2 linked regions of the Homo sapiens genome follow. The protein of the gene in region 1 purifies or fractionates together with the protein of each later gene. This does not show direct contact. Each region holds a gene or a part of one and is shown on either strand. Other genes may lie near its edges. The genes, in order: MALT1 and CARD14.

Region 1 (7,506 bases):
ATGGAGGTGTATAAGTTGTACCCTTTTTAAAGTGTATAATTTGGTGATTTCAGTATCTTCACAAAGTGGGCATCAGTCACCACTACCTAACTTCAGAACATTTCCATCACCCCAAAAAGAAACCCCATATCCATTAACAGTCACTCCCATTCCTCCTTACCCCAGCCCCTGGCAACCACCAATCTATTTTCTGTTTCTGTGGATTTGCCTATTCTGGACATTTCATATAAATGGAATCACCCAATATGTGGCCTTTTATGTCTGCCTTCTTTCACTTCACATGTTTTCAAAGTTCATTCATATTGTAGCATGTACTAGAACTTCATTATTTTAGGGCTAGATAATATTCTATTATATGATTATATTTTGTTTATCCATTTATCATCTCATGGACATTTTTGGACATGATTAATAATACTGCTGTGAGCATTTGTGTACACATTCTTGTGTGGACGTAGTTTCCATTTCTCTTCGGTATGTACCTGGAAGTGAAATTCCTGGGTCATATGGTAATCTATATTTAACTTTTTGAGGAACTGCAAAACTCTTTCCAAAGTTCTTACACCATTTTACATTTGTGCCACCAGAAATGAATGAGGGTTCCAATTTCTCTGCATCCTTGCCAACACTTGTTCTTGTCTGTCTTTTTTATTGTAGCCATCCTGGTGAGTTTAAAATGACTTGGAACTAGTGGCTAATGATGTTGAGCATCTTTTCATGTGCATATTTGCCACTCATATATCCTCTTTGGAGAAGCATCAGATCCTTTGCCTATTTTTAAATCAAGTCATTAGTCTTTTTTTTTTGAGATGGAGTCTTGCCCTGTTGCCCAGGCTGGAGTGCTAGTGGCACGATCTCAGCTTACTGCAACCTCTGCCTCCCAGGTTCAAGCGATTCTCCTGCCTTAGCCTCCCAAGTAGCTGGGATTACAGGCTCCCACCACCACACTTAGCTGGATTTTTGTATTTTTAGTAGAAACGGGGTTTCACCATGTTGGCCAGGCTGGTCTTGAACTCCTGACCTCAGGTGATCCACCCACCTTGGCCTCCCAAAGTGCTGGGATTACAGGCTTGAGCCTCCGCGCCTGGCCGTCATTAGTCTTTTTATTGATGAGTGGAAGAGTTCTTTATTCTGGATACAAGCTGTCCTTATCAGATAAATGATTTGCAAATATTTTCTCCCATTGTGTGGGTTGTCTTTTCACTTTACCTGATCTTCGTGGTTTATTGAATTAAATCCATTCTTTTGGTCATTATTTTTAAAACCCTATCTGTGCACTCCTTTTTAAAATTCCCTGTGTGTGCAGTCTTATTTTCATTCACAACAGTAATTTAGTTTTTTGCTAGGCTAGTCTCTTTTCTGTTAGCTTTCATTCCAGGTCCAATCCGTGTTTATTTCTGTTCTCCTGCCCATAATCTACCTCGCTCTCTCTCTGCCTTTGCAAATTTCTAGCCATTCCCTCTCTTAAGACCATCCCCTGTTGTTTCACTTCATACTGATATTCCTCTCTACTTTACTCATTTCATACGTACATGGTGGTTGTCCCACTAACATGATTTATGGCATTTAATTATGTGATGACTTTCATTGTTGCTTGATAACATAAACGTGTGAATCGTGTGAATTCATGTATGGAGATACATGAATCTCCTGATCTCCTGCTTAGAGGTCAGGAACTTTGTCCTTCTTTTTTGTTTCTCTCAGTGCCTACATGATAACTTCCAGTGCACACATGAGCTGTAATATAAACCCACACTTGAAAATGGGTATATCCATTTTCTCATTTTAGCTGAAACGTATTTGAAAGAACCATTTTTCTCATTTTAATCGAAATTCAGAAAAAGCAGACGACCTGGATTTTGTCCTGTAGGACCACATGAAGCAAATTGTCTTTAATTCTCAAAGCCGCATTCTCTGCTAGGAGTCGGGGCCATAATTACAATGGATTAGCTACTTTTGGTTCCCTGTCTAAATGGCTTTTACTATTTGCTTTAAAATACCCTGTAAAGAAATCATTAAATCCAGAATATTGAGAGAGCAAAATCAGTGGGCTCCAGATATTGCAAGCAGAGGGGAGGATATCTTCAAAAGTGTTTTGTCCAGTACTTTTATGAAGAAGTTCAGACTGATATTTTTGTTGTTTTTTACAGCCAAAACAAATTTCAAGAAAACATTGAGTTGTTTGGGTTAGTTTTTATAGTATCACTTCTCAGTAAGGAAATATGATTCATCTGTTGAGTCCTAAAACTATCCCAAATTTTAGATTATTGAGTCAAAAGACTCTAGATGGAAGATTGATATTTATATCTCATAGCAAAAAGAAAAAATAGCAATCTGCGAAGTCAGATTTCCCATCTCTGATTATAAAACTATATATTTTAATAACCCTTAACTGTTTATGGTAATACCTGCAGTTTCTTGACTTCATATTGCAGTTGCTATTCATCTGAATTGTGTTTGTTCATCCGTTAAATACTTACTAAGCTCCTGCTCTCTATGCCAGGAACACACAAATAAATAAATGTAAGACTATCTCTGCCCTAACAGAACTCCTAGCTTCATGGAGGAGACAAATGAGTCAGGAGAGAAATCCTAGCTGCATTCTTTTTTATATATCATAACATAAAATTGTATTTTATATTATACTATTGGTTACAAATATATTTTATAAATTAGGATATACTTCAGACAGCATTTTGATATTGTCTTGAAATGCAAATTTTAAGTGCAGACTGTTGGTAATTTATTTATTTATTTATTTATTTTGAGACAGAGTTTTGCTCTGTCGCCCAGGGTGGAGTACAGTGGCATGATCTCAGCTTACAGCAATCTCCACCTCCAAGGTTCAAGTGATTCTCCTGCCTCAGTCTCCCAAGTAGCTGGGATTACAGGTGCCCACCACCACGCCCAGCCAATTTTTGTATTTTTAGGAGAGATGGGGTTTCACCACGTTGGCCAGGCTGGTTTCGAACCCCTGACCTCAAGTGATCTGCCTGCCTCGGCCTCCCAAAGTGCTGGGATTATAGGTGTGAGCCGTCATGCCTGGCCTGTTGCCAATAATTTTAAATGCAAAATAACATTGTCTATATTTATAATTGGGTATTTCTTACATATGCTCACATCAACCTGAAGAAAATTAAAGTCAAGGTTTTTCTACAAAAAGTTATGCAGTCTGTATGTTCAGAGTGCATTTAGAATTGACATCTATCTCTCTCTTATTTTTCCTCTTTTCAGGGTTATTATATTATGCAGGACATGGTTATGAAAATTTTGGGAACAGCTTCATGGTCCCCGTTGATGCTCCAAATCCATATAGGTCTGAAAATTGTCTGTGTGTACAAAATATACTGAAATTGATGCAAGAAAAAGAAACTGGACTTAATGTGTTCTTATTGGATATGTGTAGGAAAAGGTAAGTTTTCTAATCTTTATTAAAGAATTGTTGGAGTTAAATATCGACCATGACAAACTAGAGAAACCTGTGAAATGCTAAAAGCCATTTGCGTTTGTGAATTTTAGTTTATACATTGAAACTGGAAGAACAAAACTAGAGGAAAATACATTTACTCCATGTATATCTAATTATTTTAACTCTTCATATTTGCTATAGAACACAAATGAAGAACTAAAGGGCATGGGCATTTACTCACACTACAGGGGATTCAACTCTCCAGAATGCCTTTAGATGACTTTAATAATCACTATAGTTATTCCCTCAGGAATTAACAAAACCAACACCCATGGAGTTGGGATCTCTGCTCACTAGTCAGTCCTGGTCTTCCAGACATGGAATGAGTAGCCGAAGCAGATGTTTGGAGGTTTGGATCCCATTTGTCTGCCATTGCCTTTCTAAGGAGTAGAACCAATGACTGTTCCTCTAGATTTACTATTTTTTTGCTTGCTCAGCATTTACCAATCAAAATCCAATGCCAGAGTTCAAATGCAACTCTAGTTTTAAAGCTAACAAGGAGTTAGTGGGTTATTTTGGGTAGATATGTAGCTACCTAGATGAAAAATTTTGAATCTATAATTTTAAATTATGTATTCTAAAAAACTGTTGTATTTTCTCATTATTTATACCCTTTTAAGAATGCTCTTTAACTTTTCATATTTCTATCTGCCCTCCTCCGCCTCCCTTAAATAGAAATGACTACGATGATACCATTCCAATCTTGGATGCACTAAAAGTCACCGCCAATATTGTGTTTGGATATGCCACGTAAGAACATTTGATGTTTACGTTGAAGTTTCCTTTATTGTTTGATGTCTTTTTGTTTTTGCTTTTTAGGAGCAGGGGTCTTAACTCTGTCACCCAGGCTGGAGTGCAGAGGCGCCATCATAGCTCACTGCTCCTGGGCTCAAGCGATCCTCCTGCCTCAGCCTTCTGAGTCGCTGGGATTACAGGCATGTGCCACTGTGCCTGGCCCCTGAGGGTTTTTTGATTATAGATTAGAGGCCTAGAAAATACCTATAGACATGTAGGCATAAATTTACCTCCTTGATATTCTGCGTAGAAAATTTTAAATGATCGACTTTAGCATTCCATATCATGGTATCTTAATTATTAAGCCCAAATTGGGCATGTAATTCCTGCTTAAAGATTAACTCTTTAATTATCAATGTCATGTGAGAGGCAGAAGAGAAAATGAAGCTTATTGGTGTATACAGAAGTCCCATGTGGCAAGTGTTTGCTTTTCTAACATTTTCTTTTTAAAAAATTATTTTTATTGGATATTGACAAGTTATAATTGTATGTATTTATGGGATACAAAGATATGCTATGATGTACGTATTCAATGTGGAATGATTGAATCAAGATAATTCACATATCACCTCAAATACTTATCTTTTTTCCTAACTGAAACATTGTACCCTGTGACTAACAGTCCCCACGCTGTCCCCACCCCCCCCCAGCCTCTGGTAACCACCATTCTGCTGGGTGCTTCTCTGAGTTCATTTTTATTAGCATCCACATATAAGTGAGAACATACAGTATTTGCCTTTCTGTGCCTGGCTTAACTTCTTTTTCTATTTTTAAGGTGTCAAGGAGCAGAAGCTTTTGAAATCCAGCATTCTGGATTGGCAAATGGAATCTTTATGAAATTTTTAAAAGACAGATTATTAGAAGATAAGAAAATCACTGTGTTACTGGATGAAGTTGCAGAAGGTAAAATAAAAAATAAAGAGAAAAGTACTCAGAAAAAGGAGAGCAGGGGAGACACACCTATTCAGGGTTCCCTCTCTGGTGATTGTTTTATTCTTATTATGTGGGTTTGGAATTAGTACCTACTTTATAAAACAATTTTTATATTAATATAACGTTCAGCAACACTTCTGCTATTTAATGTCATCTTTCCTTCCCTTTTGACCTAGCTCTCCACCATCTGTGCAGCATTACTCAGACTACAAGGCTAAGCCTCGGCACAGTCATTAATAAAGTTGAATTCTCAGAGCTCTACTTTGCTTCTATGCCCAGTGCCTTGGTACTGGCAAATCTCCCTATTTGAGGGTGGGTGGGTGGCATGGAGGGGTGGTGGGGAATTGTCCAGTGAGCAGTCTCTCCCAGGATGGGAGAGAGAAAACTTTACAGAAATTTTTAGACACTGCTGGGAAAAGCTGAGTTCATTTTTTTCCCTGATGAACTTAGTAGTTTTTAAATCCTGATTTAAGGATGTGATCCTAGGGGGTCTAATGCCACATCTTCCATTTCTATCTGTTCTCCCTGCCTGCTGGTATAATGCTGTGCATATGTCAGATGCTGAACAAGTACCTATTATTTCAGTAGATTGCACTGTGTTTTTTGAAAAAACATTTTATAAGCCATAGCAAAAAGAAGGTAACTTGGCCAGGTATGGTGGCTCAAGCCTGTAATCCCAGCACTTTGGGAAGCTGAGGCAGGAGGATCACTTAAGGCCAAGAGTTCAAGACCAGCCTAGGCAACATAGCGAGACCCTGTCTTCAAAATAAAAAATAAAAATAAAAAAGAAGAAATTATTTTACAAACTAGCACCACTAGAAAATGGAGTTTCATGGATGTTCCAGTGATGGCAGTTTGGGTATAAGGTGTTTGACCAACTGTCAGCCATATTTATTTTCATGTTTTTATCTGTGTAGCTATTTTAGATCACTTGACTTAGCCACTTTTCCATTTAACATAACCAGCCAGGGCTTTGGACTTCCTGCCACCCTCCCGCTTCATCCAGAGAAGTTCCACTTTTATTTGTTTTCTACATTAGGCTTCTTCTGAAGCTTACATTTGAAGGAAAGGCTCTGCTGCTTTAAAAAAAAAAAAAGAAAGAAAGAAAACCTTTGGATTATGTCAGTTATATTCAAACTGAGATCCAGTAAGGTGCTCCAGAAACTCTACAGTGTTTTATTTCAATTTCGTTTTTAAGTCCATTTTAACTATTTTAAAACTTAATAAAAAGCACCATGCTCACTCACATATGATATTTACCAAATTGTCATAGCAATGAATGGCATCCCGATATGTGCTGTGAGGATATTTGAACTTCTTATAAACATCTTAGACAGTTTTGCTTTTCGCTGATCTTTTTCAGTCCTACCATGTCTGCTTAACCAGAATTGCCCAGGCAGGAAGACCCTGTAGTGTACATGGAGCACACTCAGCTCAGTGCCGTGCACATTGTGCCCTTCGTGGGTAACGGCCCACTCATTGTACAAAATAAGTAAAGGCCTAATAGTATCATGATAAATAATACAGTTAAATCTAGCCCTTATTTTGAGTTTTGGATGCTTTGTGTCTGACCCCTGTCTTAGTAGTAAAGAGCAAAAGTAGTTGTATGAAATTTTTCACAAGTCATCCAATTTTGAAACAAAACTTTGCTGTTTCTCCCTTTGGATCTTCCAGATTACTTAATTGAAACTCATTCCATGGCTGGGCATGGTGGCTCACACCTGTAATCCCAGCACTTTGGGAGGCTGAGGTAGGAGGATTGCTTGAGCCCAGGAATTCAAGACCAGTCTGGGCAACACAGCAAGACCCCATCTCAATTTAAAAAAAAAATTATTTGGGGCCAGGTACAGTGGCTCATGCCTGTAATCCCAGCATTTGGGGAGGCTGAGGCAGGAGAATCACTTGAACACAGAAGTTTGAGACCAACCTAGGCAACATTGTCAGACCCCCCATCTCTATAAAAATTTAAAAAATTAGCCAGGCATTATGGTGTGCACCTGCAGTGCCAGCTACTCGCGAGACTTAGGTGGGAGGATTGCTCGAGCCTGGCAGTTTGAGACTGTAGTAAGTATGACCACACCACTGCTCTCCAGCATGTGTGACAGAGCAAGCCCCATCTCAAAAAAAAAAAAAAAGAAAATTCCAGAGGGAGAAAAGTATTCACAGATTATAAGCCAAGCAGTTGAAGGGGAAAATAAACATGTTACCAATTTCTTTTTTTAATTTTTTGGTTTCTTTGTGTGAGACTACAGAGTCTCTGTCGCGCAGGCTAGAGTGCAGTGGCATGATCTTGGCTTACTGCAACGTCC
Region 2 (7,506 bases), on another chromosome or scaffold:
CCCTTCTTTACATTTCTAGTTGTCCTCTTAAGCAGCAGTCCCCAACCTTTTTGGCACCAGAGACCGGCTTCATGGAAGACAACTTTTCCACAGACCGGGTTGTGGGGGATGGTTTTGGGATGATTCAAGCACGTTACATTGATTGTACACTTTATTTCTATTATTATTACACTGTAATATGTAATGAAAGAATCATACACTGAACCATAATTCAGAATCAGTGGGAGCCCTGAGCTTGTTTTCCTGCAACTAGACGGTCCCATCTGGGGGTGATGGGAGACGGTAACAGATCATCAGGAATTAGATTCTCATAAGGAGCGTGAAACCTAGATCCCTCACTTGCACAGTTCACGATAGGGCTCATGCTCCTCTGAGAATCTACTGCTGTGCTGAGCTGACAGGAGGTGGAGCTGAGGCCGTAATGCTCACTTGCCCACCACGCCCCTCCTGCTGTGTGACCCGGGTCCTGATGGACCATGGACCAGTACCAGTATGTGGCCCAGGGGTTGGGGAACCCTGCTCTTAAGGTTCCCAATTATCAGCTCTGAGGTAGTTCAAGCAACAGAGCCCCTTGACGATGTTCAGGGAGATAGTCCCGATATCCTAAGGGGGCCAATTAGATTCTAATGGTGTTAAAACACATCTTAATTTTTATTGTAAAAATATCTACTCTCCTAAGCTTAGAACAATATTGAGAAGAAATGAAGTGGATGGTGGAAGCCCTGGGGGGTGGGCCTTCACAGTGGGGAAGGCTGTGGGTGGAGAGCCAGGGCATCGGGTAGGTGAAGGCCAGGGATGCCACTCAGCATCCTGTAGGGCCCGGTATAGCCCGCAGCAGCACAGAATGATCCCAAGGCTAAGAAACCTCTATCTAGAATGCTCTTGAATGTTCTAGAACCGAGGTTCTTTCTTTTCTTTTCTTTTCTTTTTCAAGACAGGAAAGTGCTTATCACAAAGAACCCCCGATCTCGACTGGGGAAGGGTTGGCAGTTGACTCTCTGGCCAGCACTATGTGTAGCACGCATCACTAGAGGTGTGAAGGCCCCACAGAGGCTCTGGTGTGTGGCTTTGTTTTGACCAAGGCGTGCAGGCAGTGGTCCTACGGCAGGGCTGGCCCGCGCCTCGCCTCAGTGCCCTCAGCGCCTTCTGTCTTCTGGCTGGATTCAGAGTCCCGGGGGAAAGAGACTGACCTTCTCGACTTGCCCTCAGGTTGATTACGAAGCCTCAGAGCCCTTGTTCAAGGCAGTCCTGGAGGACACGACCCTGGAGGAGGCCGTGGGGCTTCTCAGGAGGGTGGACGGCTTCTGCTGCCTGTCTGTGAAGGTCAACACGGACGGTACACATACCACTCCTCTCGTGTGCACAGCTGCCTGGCCAGACTCCATGACCCTTAAGTCCCTGGTGGTTCTTCTGCACGCCCAGCAGCCAGGGACCCCCAGAGCCAAGAGAGGATCAGCCAGGCTGTGCCCCAGGTCCCCAGGAGGCCCCCAAGCCAGCTGGAAACCTCCCACCCACTGACTCCAGTGCCAGAGCAGCTTCTGAGACTGGGAGGGTCCTTCCTTCTCTCCTACTTTAATTTTCTGCAACCTTCCTCGCAGAGGCTCGTATCTGTGGCTCATCTGTGGCTCATGTCCCCTTTTATCAGGTTATAAGAGGCTACTCCAGGACCTGGAGGCCAAAGTGGCGACCTCGGGGGACTCATTCTACATCCGGGTCAACCTGGCCATGGAGGGCAGGGCCAAAGGGGAGCTGCAGGTGCATTGCAACGAGGTCCTGCACGTCACCGACACCATGTTCCAGGGCTGCGGCTGCTGGCATGCCCACCGCGTGAACTCTTACACCATGAAGGATACTGCCGCGCACGGCACCATCCCCAACTACTCCAGGTGAGCAGCTGCCTCGAGCTCGGTGCGTCCCCAGAGAGGCCCACAGGGAAATGGCACCCAGCCTGCCTCGGCTTCCTCCTCCTGCCCAGCAATAGAGGGTGGGCGTGGTGAGACCCCCCTAAGGAGGGAAGCCTGCCAAGATCACTGCTGAAGATGTTGTTTCTTTGTGATGGATGCTTTATATATTGCAAATGAAATGTTCATTCTAGAACATTCTAGATCTGGGTTTCTTAGCTCTGGGTTTCTTAGCTTTGGTACCATGGACGTTTGGGGCTGGATCCCCGTCTGTGGTGGGGCCGTCCTGGGCACTGCAGGATATAGAGCAGCATCCCTGGCCGCCCTACCCAGGATGCCGGGACTACTCCCATGCCCCAGCTGTGACAACCAGAAATGTCTCTATAGGTTGCCAAGGGTCCCCTGGTTCTCCTAGGACTGTCTTGGTCTTAGCACTGAAAGCCCCACTTGCAGGGAAGCCCCTCGGTCCTGGGCAAGCAGGGACAGCTGGTCACCCTCCCTGGGGAGTGACATTGCCCCCTGCCTTGCTCCATTGAAAACCACTGCTCTAGGCCGAGCATGGTGGCTCACACCTGTAATCCAAACACTTTGGGAGGCCGAGGCGGGTGGATCATCTGAGGTCAGGAGTTCGAGACCAGCCTGGGTAACCTGGTGAAACCCTGTCTCTATTAAAAATACAAAAAACTTAGCTGGGCGTGGTGGCAGGTGCCTGTAATCCCAGCTACTCAGGAGGCTGAGGCAGGAGAATCACTTGAACCCCGGAGGCAGAGGTTGCAGTGAGCCGGGATTGAGCCATTGCACTCCAGCCTGGGCGACAGAGTGAGACTCTGTCTCAAAAAAAAAAAAAAAGAAAAGGAAACCATTGTTCTAGATCAGCCTATGGGAGGCTCCAAGTTTCAAGTGCACGGAACGCACAGTGCTAGAAAGCAGGAGTGTTGAGCTCAGCACCCCCATCACTCATTGCAAACTCAAGTCCCCTGGGGATCGGAGCCAGCAGGTCCAGGGAGAGGCCTGGCACTCTGCATTTCTAACAGCTCTCTCGGTGACTCCAGGCTGCAGGCCAGGGACCCACCATGAATATTGAGGTCCTGGAGTGGGGCCCTGTACGCTGGCTGCTCAACAGCACCCCCTGGGTCCCGCCCCAGGACAAGTAAATCAGCATCTCCAGGGGTGGGCCGAGGCCCTGGAGTCTTTTGAAAGCTCTGGAGACTGGCATGGCCGCCAGGATGGAGCGCTCCAGCCTGCAGCAAAGGGATGTGTGGAGCTCTAGGTGGAGGCCCTTCTCTCCCACCCGGCCATCTCCCCCACTCTCCCCTGCTCGGCTCTCCCCTGCCCTGCTCACCTGGCAGGAGGCAGCTGGGTCAGGGCCTCTGCTGGTCTCTGCAGGGCTCAGCAGCAGCTCATAGCCCTCATCCAGGACATGACTCAGCAGTGCACCGTGACCCGCAAGGTGAGGCTCCAGGGAGGGGCCTGGACCCCACTGGGGTGGGCTGGAAGAGGGGCTCGGTGCTGGCAGGGTGGCAGGAGGCACTGTGTGGAGAGTGGGCTGCTGATTGGAGGGTAACCCCACCTGTCTCTCCTCTGCACCCCTTCAAACCAGGGCAGGGTCTGCAGCCCCTGCCCAGCCTGCAGGCTCTTGCACAAGTGCAGACACACCTCAGGCTGTTCTCAGAGCATCTGCGCCTCTGCATCACTCCCAGGTCGCCCTAGTGCCAATCATCTCCCCTGAATTCCCATTCCTGTTGATGGCTTCAACAGCTCCTCCTCATCCTTTCTCTGTCCCTCCTTTAGCCATCTTCTGGGGGACCACAGAAGCTGGTCCGCATCGTCAGTATGGACAAAGCCAAGGCCAGCCCTCTGCGTTTGTCCTTTGACAGGGGCCAGTTGGACCCCAGCAGGATGGAGGGTGAGGCCTGGTGAGCTGGCACAGGGGCCACTGGCTCCAAGTGGGTGAGGGGCTTTGGGAGCTGCTGCTAGTTGGTCAGCTGGGGCAGGGGGATGCCACTCATTTAGGCCAGGATCTGGTCTTCAAGAATCATGGGGCTGGGTGTGGTGGCGCACACCTGTAATCCCAGATACTCGGGAGGCTGAGGCAGGAGAATCGCCTGAACCCGGGAGGCAGAGGTGGCAGTGAGCCGAGATGGTGCCATTGCACTCCAGCCTGGGCAATAAGAGCAAAACTCTGTCTCAGGAAAAAAAAAAAATTTCAGGAGAGGAGTACAGGACAGAGGGAGGGCTAGGACCCTGTGCCCTGGAGGATGGCTGAGGAGAAGGGTGCCACTCTCCCAGATCCTTTGGAAGGAAGAAAACCCTGGCTTCCGCCATCCTCCCTTGGGCCTATAGGAAACAGGATTAAGTTGCAGGCTGCAAAGCAGTCCCTGGAGAGCCACAGAGCTGTGTAACCCCCGTGCAAAGGAGCCGCTCAGCCAGGGGCTATGGAACTGGGAGTGAGTCCTGTGACCGCTGAGCCTGTGCCCCTGGAATTCTAGGTGCTGGGGCTGCTGCAGTGAGCAAAGCAGACCCAGTCCCTCCCGGGGCAGGGTAGGCTGGCTGGGGGCTGCCGCAGCCTCACCCACCCTCAGGATCCTCTCCTCCACAGGCTCCAGCACGTGCTTCTGGGCCGAGAGCTGCCTCACCCTGGTGCCCTATACCCTGGTGCGGCCCCATCGACCCGCCCGGCCCCGGCCTGTGCTCCTCGTGCCCAGGGCGGTTGGGAAGATCCTGAGCGAGAAACTGTGCCTCCTCCAAGGGTTTAAGAAGTGCCTGGCAGGTATGCTGTTGCCTGGGAATCCCTCTACCCCTTCCACCTTCCCTCCCTCCCTCCTCCCCTTCCTCCCTCCTTCCTCCCCTTCCTCCCTCCTCCTTCCCTCCCCCACCACGCACATTCCCACACTCACCTGCTGTGTCCAGATAGTTCAGGATGGAGGTGCAGGGCACAGAGCGGGGTGTGCAGGGTCAGGTTTGTAAAGTGGACATCCTAAGAAGAGCTTCTCCCAGTGCTGGCAGGGTTCACGGGGACAGGGGTGTTTACCATGGGACTCCCCCAGACCCCCACACAGCTGGTCTATGATGGCCCCGTCCAATGTCACCTGTAGAGTACTTGAGCCAGGAGGAGTATGAGGCCTGGAGCCAGAGAGGGGACATCATCCAGGAGGGAGAGGTGTCCGGGGGCCGCTGCTGGGTGACCCGCCATGCTGTGGAGTCCCTCATGGAAAAGGTGAGGTCAAGGGCGGGGTGGGCAGGGGAGCTGTCCTGGGAAGGGTTTCAGGAATGCAGAGGAGGGGGATGAGATAAAGGTACAGGGACCGACCTGAGACCTGGGTGACCTTGTCGCCGACCTCTGGGTCCCAACAGCCCAGCAGGAGCCCAAAACTCATCTCAGCCAGTTAGGATCCACGTGACTGTGGGTGAGGTCTCCCAACTCCTTGAATCTCAGTTTCCTCAGCTTGGGGGATGTTTAATAGATATTTGTTCGAGAATGAATAAATCCGAGCTAACAACACTCTCCACGTTTGAAGGCGCAAACGCGTGAAAAGCAGCTCCCCGTGAACCACAGCTTTGTGTCTGCACAGGCACGGGAAGCCGAGTCTGGCATCTGCGTGCCTCCTGTAGGGGCTGGCGGAGCTCCATGCCAAGTTCACCTCATCCCCAGAGCTCACAATTTCTAGATTTTCCCAGTGAAAAATCAAAGGGATGGAAACTCTTAATACTGCATAGCACACAGCCTCATTTAGAAAGTGGCAAACTCAGCTGGGCCTGGGGCTCACGCCTGTCATCCCAGCACTTTGGGAACCCGAGGTGGGAGGATCGCTTGAGCCCAGGAGTTCAAGACCAGCCTGAGCAACACAGTGAGACCCGTCTCTAAAAAAAATTAAAAAATAAAAAGAGAAGAAAGTAGCCGGGCACAGTGGCTCGCGCCTGTAATCCCCACACTTTGGGAGGCCTAGGCGGGAAGATTGCTTGAGCCCAGGAATTTGAGACCAGCCTGAGCAACACAGTGAGACACCCGTCTCTACAAAACATTTAAAAGCTAAAAAAATTAAAAGTGGGCCGGGTGCGGTGGCTCACGCCTCTAATCCCAGCACTTTGGGAGGCCGAGGCGGGCAGATCACCTGAGGTCAGGAGATCAAGACCATCCTGGCTAACACGGTGAAACCCTGTCTCTACTAAAAACAGAAAAAATTAGCCAGGCGTGGTGGTGGGCGCCTGTAGTCCCAGCTACTCGGGAGGCTGAGACAGGAGAATGGCATGAACCTGGGAGGCAGAGCTTGCAGTGAGCCGAGATCGCGCCACTGCACTCCAGCCTGGGCGACAGAGCGAGACTCCGTCTCAAAAAAATAAAAAATAAAAATAAAAAAAAGAGAGAAGAAAGTGGCAAGCTCTATTCCCTCATCTCCTCTACAAAATTCAGCTCTGCCCAGCTCCTGCCCTGCCCTCAGCCTGTCCGGAGGGCCCTTCTGACCTGGGCGTTGGCTCCCTTTGCTTCCTCTGAGGCCTGTGATCTTGACTCACTTCTTCTCTCCCTCCCACAAAGAACACCCATGCCCTCCTGGACGTCCAGCTGGACAGTGTCTGCACCCTGCACAGGATGGACATCTTCCCCATCGTCATCCACGTCTCTGTCAACGAGAAGATGGCAAAGAAGCTCAAGTAGGTGCACGCTGGGGGCTGGGCAGGGGCTTCGAAGCGGCTCCTGGGCTCCCCCAAAGCCCACGGCAGGTGCCTCTGGAGTGTGCTCTGCGGTTTGCAGGAAGCTGAGGCGCTGACAGGGCCGTTTCCGCACAACTTTGGGACAAGGGCCCCGCTGATTGCTCATGAGATTCCCCTGATTTTGGCCGGGCGTGGTGGCTCACGCCTGTAATCCCAGCACTTTGGGAGGCCAGGGTGGGCAGATTGCTTGAGGTCAGCAGTTCGAGACCAGCCTGGCCAACATGGAGAAACCCTGTCTCTATTAAAAATACAAAAACTAGCCAGGTGTGGCGGCGGGCGCCTGTAATCCCAGCTACTCGGGAGGCTGAGACATGATAATTACTTGAACTGGGAGGTGGAGTTGCGGTGAGCCAAGATCGCGCCACTGCACTCCAGCCTGGGTGACAGAGCGAGACTCTGTCTCAACAAAACAAAACAACAACAACAACAACTGCTCTGATTTCACGCTTACCAAACAAACTTGATTTCAAATCTGGCCTCTCCAGAATCTTGATACCAGGATGACGGTGCCTTTTACAGTGGGCAAAAGTAGCCTAGTCACTGGAAAATGACATTTTATAATTGAAATTTAAAGTTGTAAATTAACAAATTGGCACTCCCTCCCCCAAGAGCAGCTCAGAGGACCATTGTAAGGCCAGAACCCCACCCGGCCTCAGCTCCACTGACCCTCCACTTACTGGTGCTTGGCTAGCACAATCTAATCCTTGTCGGCTAAGGACAAAAAAAAAAAAAGTAAAAAAATTACTTGGTTTCCTGGGGACAGACCAAGATGTCCTGCTACTGTGCCCTTTCTACTCCAGGAAGCAAGGCTGTGTTCTAGACAACCTGCCTCCCACCACTGGGGCCTGGGGCCTATTTTCTTTACAAGGTCCCCTCAAAGCGAGGCCACCTGTGT

The links.
Region 2: the proteins of MALT1 (region 1) and CARD14 purify together in Homo sapiens (affinity purification with western blotting; 2 studies listed by BioGRID and IntAct, with this or other methods). This does not show direct contact.

The regions. Positions count from the first base shown.
Region 1 is NC_000018.10:58,730,163-58,737,668, forward strand, and holds part of MALT1 (mucosa-associated lymphoid tissue lymphoma translocation protein 1), read left to right. Parts: intron 1-3,234; coding exon 3,235-3,412; intron 3,413-3,719; exon of another isoform or gene 3,720-3,818; intron 3,819-4,144; coding exon 4,145-4,219; exon of another isoform or gene 4,220-4,225; intron 4,226-5,039; coding exon 5,040-5,167; intron 5,168-7,506. UniProt on the Homo sapiens protein: Protease that enhances BCL10-induced activation: acts via formation of CBM complexes that channel adaptive and innate immune signaling downstream of CARD domain-containing proteins (CARD9, CARD11 and CARD14) to activate NF-kappa-B and MAP kinase p38 pathways which stimulate expression of genes encoding pro-inflammatory cytokines and chemokines.
Region 2 is NC_000017.11:80,200,535-80,208,040, forward strand, and holds part of CARD14 (caspase recruitment domain-containing protein 14), read left to right. Parts: intron 1-138; exon of another isoform or gene 139-1,209; coding exon 1,210-1,336; exon of another isoform or gene 1,337-1,645; coding exon 1,646-1,886; coding exon of another isoform or gene 1,887-1,890; exon of another isoform or gene 1,891-3,142; intron 3,143-3,243; exon of another isoform or gene 3,244-3,287; coding exon 3,288-3,351; exon of another isoform or gene 3,352-3,692; coding exon 3,693-3,807; coding exon of another isoform or gene 3,808-3,817; exon of another isoform or gene 3,818-4,062; intron 4,063-4,500; coding exon 4,501-4,671; intron 4,672-4,798; exon of another isoform or gene 4,799-4,996; coding exon 4,997-5,118; exon of another isoform or gene 5,119-6,435; coding exon 6,436-6,551; coding exon of another isoform or gene 6,552-6,555; exon of another isoform or gene 6,556-7,506. UniProt on the Homo sapiens protein: Acts as a scaffolding protein that can activate the inflammatory transcription factor NF-kappa-B and p38/JNK MAP kinase signaling pathways.